Linked DNA regions of Homo sapiens: region 1 is linked to region 2. Evidence: fine-mapped expression QTL. A gene starts in region 2. The other region holds a variant in brackets. All regions are shown on one strand. Distances are between the middles of the regions.

Region 1 (2,897 bases), 63 kb after region 2:
AATCATGGGGAAGGTGAACAAACAGGCTCTAGCCTGAACTTCCCAGGGGACTCCTGGAGTCCCATGTAGCAAGGAAGCTTAAGGCTCTTCTCTGACAACTTGGGAAGCTGTTGCTGCGGCTGCTGCATCAGACACCCCGCCATGGCGCTGAGCAGGGTGGGGTTTAGATTCCCAGTCACGTGTAAAGGCAGTCACACCATCCACGTGCCAGTGGAGTACAACTTGGCAGGCAGTGAGAAGGTGCCAGGATTTTTCGGAGTTAAGTGACTGTGGTAAGTAGGATGGGCTAGAAGAAGAGTGAACGCTGGCTGAGCTTGCTGTGGCTGTGAAAGCGTGCAATCCCGGGAGGGTGGCAGGGGCCAGGGGCCACCACAGGACTCAGCGTGCAGGGTTCACCTACAAAGATCACGTGGACCAAGTGTGCCTGGACCAAGTGTGCCTGAAGCGGTGCTCTGCGTGGGTACAAAATGTGACAGCAGTGTTTGCCAGTCCACTTCACTGGCAAAGGGTGAGTTCTATGCCTACTTATTTCCAAAGACACTGCAAGGTAACTTTGTGTTTCTTCAAAGACTCTAAAGTGGGCCAGGCACAGTGGCTCACTAATCCCAACACTTTGGGAGGCTGAGGTGGGCAGATTACTTGAGCCCAGGAGTTTGAGACCAGCCTGGGCAACAAGCAAGACCCATCTACCCAAAATTTTTTTTTTAATTTTTTAAATCAGGAGTTCGAGAGCAACCTGACCAACATGTGAAACCCCGTCTCTGCTAAAAATACAAAATTAGCTGGGTGTGGTGGTGCACGCCTGTAATCCCAGCTATTCGGGAAGCTGAGGCAGGAGAATTGCTTGAACCTGGGAGGTGGAGGTTGCAGTGAGCCGAGATCACGCCATTGCACTCCAGCCTGGGCAACAAGAGTGAAATTCCATCTCGAAAAAAAAAAAAAAAAAATGAGCCGGGCTTGGTGGTGCACGCCTGTAGTCCTGGCTACTTGGGAGGCTGATGCGGGAGGATCGCTCCCAGTCCAGGAGGTTGAGGCTACCTTGAGCTATGCTTGCACCACTATACTCTAGCCTGGGCCACAGAGTGAGACTTGGTCTCTAAAAAAACAAAAATTAATTAATTAAAAATAAAATA[A/C]GATAAAAAATTAAAAACAAAGACCATAAATGCCATGAGTTATGTTTGTTTTTTCTAAAATTTTATTCCCAGCATAGGGAATAAATGCAGAAGAGGTGCTTCATAAATATGTACTGAATTAACAGATAAAACGAGGGTTCATAATAAGAACCTAGACTCCTTGGAGGGTCCATGAGAAGGTTTTTCTTTGTGTCTGCGTGACAAATTGTCAGTCCCAGGATGGTGCCAGAAGTAAAGTTGGGTCATTGGAGGGTGACTTTGACAACGTCTGACATCTGCAGAGAAGAGGCAGATGTTTCGATCACCTAGCCGACACTGTTCATGACGTCAAAGGCCACGGTGGCTTTACAGCTACAATCTCAACAGCAACAAGAATTTAATGAGGGCCGATTATGTGCAAGATACTATAGTAAGTGCTTAATATTCATTATCTCATGTAATCCTTACAATAGGCCTTGGGGTAGCTTTTATTATTCCTATTTATAAGTGAGTAAACGTTGTCTCAGGTAGGTAAGTGACCAACCCAAGGTCCTTGGATTAGAGCCTAGTTGAATTTTCACTTGAGCCATTTACTCTGGCCACAGAATAGGAACATTGGAAGGAAATCCAGAGGACTTGGTGATATGGTTTGGATCTATGTCCCCACCCAAATCTCATGCTCAATTGTAATCCCCAATATTGGAGGTGGGGCCTGGTGGGTGGTGATTGGATCACAGGGCTGGTTTCTCATGGTTTAGCATTTGGTACTGTATAGTGAGTGAGTTCTCATGAGGTCTGGTTGTTTAACAGTGTATGGCATTTCCCCCTCCTTCTTCCTCCTGCTCTGGCCATGTGAGGTGTCTGCTTGCCCTTTGCCTTCCACCATGTCTGTAGGCTTCCTGAGGACTCTCCAGAAGCCAAGCAGATGCTGGCACCATGCTTCCTGTACAGTCTGCAGAACTGTGAGCCAATTAAATCCCTTTTCTTTATAAATTGCCTAGTCTCAGGTATTTCTTTATAACAGTGTGAGAACAGACTAATATGCTTGGGCTCTGGACCCAGCTCTGCTGCTGCCTGCCCTGGCTTGGTGGACGTCGCCAGCCTCTCTCCTGCCCTGCCCACAAAGAGAAGTGTACTTCCCAGCCACTGCTCGGGGACAGTCACGCGGCCAACTCTGCCCAACAGGCAGTGAGTGGAGATGACTTGTGCTCTGTGTGGGTGAAGCACTTTGATCGCTGGTCGCCTCCTTTTCTCTCACCGTGAGACGGAGGAGACACGTGTTCGCCAGCCTCCCAGATGAGAAGGCCGTGTGCTTTGATGCTGTGGCTGTAAGATGAAAGAGCCTCCATCCTAGGTCCCAAACAGGGCTGTAGAGCAGAATTTTGTGCAACTCATGTTGGATACCATGTGAGCAAGAGCACACGTGTATGTTGAGGCACTGGGATTTTAGGATTGTTTGTCAACATAGGTAACCCAGGTTATTGTGACTAATGCATTTGATCCACTCTTGTTAATCCTCTAAGTATCGGTTTTGCCATCTGTAACTGATGATAATAATATCTATCAGCCAGCTATCTGGGGGCTGTTAAAAGAGATAAGGGAGGAAATGGTTCCCTCCAGGTCTAACATTCTCCAGAACCATCTAGCTTAGTGAAATGGCATGCTCTAAAAATAGAGTTTTCTTCATGACCATTGTATTATGTGCTTAAGGTCTTAAGATCTGACCCTCTGTATTCGCAGATTTGATGACAAAGAGCCGGAACTAGAGATGTCCAGGGCTTCCTG
Region 2 (2,897 bases):
CCGCCGAGGCCAGAAGGCCGGAGCTGAGCTCCGCGGCCGCGCTCTGCGGCGACCCCCGCAGCGACGTCATGATGTTGTCCACGCTGAAGCCCTGGCTATGGTGCGGCGGCGGGGCGGAGGGCGCGGGCGGCGGCGGCGCGGAATCCGCACCGTCCAGGCTGAGCGGCCGCGCCGACGGCAGGCTGCCCGGGGGGCTGCTCCCGCTGGACAGGCTGCTGCTGCTGCTGTCGGGGCTCTCGATCTTGGGCACCGCGGCGGCGCTGCCGCTGCCCAGGGCGGCGGCCGGGGACAGGGGCTGGGGCGGCGAGGGGCACGTACCGTTCTCGGTCTTGATGTCCTGGATGCGCACGGGCGGCGGCTGCGGACCGGGCGCGTTGCCGTCGGCCTGCTCCGGCGGCGCGGGCGGGGGCTGGCGGCCGGGCGGGGGCGGCTCCTTGAGGTGCAGCCTGTCCTTCTCCTCCTTGTCCTTCACCGCGTCCTTCTTCTTGAAGCGCCGCCGCCGCCGCAGGAAGCTGCCGTTCTCGAACATGTTGTAGGAGTCCGGGTCCAGCGTCCAGTAGCTGCCCTTGCCCGGCTTCTTGTCGTCGCGCGGCACCTTGACGAAGCACTCGTTGAGCGAGAGGTTGTGGCGGATGCTGTTCTGCCAGCCCTGCTTGTTGTCCCGGTAGAAGGGGAAGCGGTCCATGATGAACTGGTAGATGCCGTTCAGGGTGATCTTCTTGTCCGGGGCGTTCTGGATGGCCATGGTGATGAGCGCGATGTAGCTATAGGGCGGCTTCACCATGTCCTTGGGCTGCGGCTGCGGCGTGTAGGGCCCGTAGGCGCGGGCCATGCCGCCCGGGTACTGCTCGGCGTGCGCAGGGTGCGAGTACACGCTCATGGGGGCCGGCATGGCGGTGTAGCCGCCCCCGGCCGCCGCGGCCGCCGCGCGGTAGTAGCTCTGCTCGCCGCCGAGGTAGGGCACCACTCCCAGGGAGTTGGGGCTGGACACGGAGTAGCGCGCCTGCATGGCCCCCGCTCGCCGCCGCCCCGCGCCGCCCGCCGCCCCCCACCCTCGCTCGGGCCGGGCCGCGCCGCGCCGGCCGCCGAGTCCGAGTCCGGGCCCGGCCGAGCTGGTGCCGGCCCGCTGCGCTGTGCGTCCGGCTGCGCTGCCGCCTCTCCCGGCGCTCGCTGGGGCTGGCTCCTCCGGCGCCTCGGGCTACCTCGGGGCCCGCGCGGCCGCGAGGCGGGGTCGCTGCGAGGGGAGAAGGCCGGGCCCGGCCGCGGCAGACCGCCTTGCAGGAACTCGCGGCGCAGCTTCCAGGCGCAAACGGGGGAAAGCAGACAAAAAGAAAGAACAAGCAGGCGCCCTTCTCGCCACACTGCCTGCGCCTTCCAGGAGACTCTGCCCTGAGCTGCCGGCGAAGGCGGCCAAATAACCAGGGCGGGGGGGGGGGGGGCCGCGCGCCGGCCGCCTGCCCGGGCCCCGCGTCACCTTTTCTCGGTCTCTCGCGCGCCAGCCGCTTAAGGAAGCATTGGGAAAACTTCTGAACTTTTGAGCATCCGTCACCCAGGCGAGGACTTTTTTACGCAGTTACACTTTTTTCCGGGCAGCGGAGCCCCGCCCCGCCAGCGGCGGCAGCCAATGGGAGGTGAGAACCGCCTCCGAATGAGCCGGAGGCCGAGCCCTGCCGGCCCGCTCCCGGAGGCCGGAGGACCGCGGGGCTGACCACACGCGCGCCGGCCGCCCTGGCCCGGGCCCCGGCCCTGCGCCCGCGCCGGCGCCCGGCCCGCCGTCGGTTCGCCCCCCGCAGTCCACCTGCCTGCCGCCGGCGCCCGGCAGACCTCCCACCCCGGGCCCTCCGGACCCACGCCCGCCGTTCGCGCAGACTTCCTGGGTCCTCCCGGGACCCCGTGCAGACCCTTCCTTCGCCCACGGCTCCCGAGTGGCCCTGGCGTCTCCGCCCCGCCTCGTGCTGGCTCGCTCTCATTCCTTCGCCAGCCCCGCCGACGCCAGCGCTGGGGTTGCCCCAGCCTCTCCTCCCCGCCGCCTCTCCCCTCCCGCAGCCCCTTCCCTCCCTTCTCCAACGCCAGTCTCACTCGGGTCACTGACGTCTCCGGCTTTTCTCCACTTGGAGGTTCTCCTGTCCTGAACTCGGCTACAAAGGACATGATTTTGAGGGCTCGGTCACAGCCAGGCCCTGCTCGCGGTGGGGAAGAAGGTTCGTCGCCCATCTGGCCCCCCTCCATGACCCCTCCCCAGCCGAAATGAAGGCAAGGGGTGCGGGGCCCTGCTGGGAGTTTCCGACGGCCGTTCACCCGCGAAGGATGAGCCCGCCCCGCTGCGGGCCGCCCTGCTTCTCGCCCCCCTCCCCGGGGGGCCGGCCCTTGGCGGCCTGAGGGTGCGGGCGGCGAGGGCTGCCGGAGCCCGGCTGCTGCCCCGCGCTCCCCTGCCCGCCCGCGAGGGTCCCACCGGCTCGCCGCGCCGCCGCCCCCTCTGATCCCGTCAGGCCCGTTTCGGCTCAGATGAGGGGTCAGGCTGCGGGCTCGGTGACATTAGCAGGTGTGATGACAAGAAGCAAATAAATATGTCTAAGAGCTTAACGCTTCCCCAGGCCAGTCTCCATCTCCACATGCGCGGGGCTGCCGGCTCGCAGAGACAACGGGTGTGTCTGGGGGAACGTCCAGGGTCGCACCTAGAGGGCGGTTCAAGGATTCTGGGGGGACACGCACGGAAGGGCCCCCGCTCGTTGTGCACACGCCTGAGATTCGCCGTCGCTGGGTGGTTGGAATGGGACAGGAAGAAGAGAAATGAGGGAAAGAAACGAAGGAGCGGGAAAGAGCCAGGCCTCCCTCCCCCGGCACGGCGATTCTGCATTTTAGCGACTTGAGGAGAGACCCTCCCGGAGGCTGAATCC

What was found. PIP is the estimated chance that this variant, and not a neighbour inherited with it, causes the effect. A credible set is the group of variants that fine-mapping cannot tell apart.
Region 1: its variant is the best candidate, but not a certain one, in a credible set for the expression of FOXC1 in blood mononuclear cells (TOPMed, PIP 0.80).

Annotation. Positions count from the first base shown.
Region 1 is chr6:1,545,223-1,548,119 of GRCh38, reverse strand. The region is part of intron 2 of LOC102723944 (a long non-coding RNA gene); the gene reads left to right. Among named protein-coding and RNA genes, the nearest start is that of FOXCUT, 59 kb to the left of the region's middle. The variant A/C (reference allele first, on the strand shown) is at 1,134.
Region 2 is chr6:1,608,558-1,611,454 of GRCh38, reverse strand. It overlaps FOXC1 (forkhead box C1), which reads right to left and starts at 1,540. Exons shown (of 1, transcript NM_001453.3): 1 at 1-1,540. The coding sequence starts at 1,009. RefSeq lists an enhancer at 683-782 and a silencer at 1,113-1,732.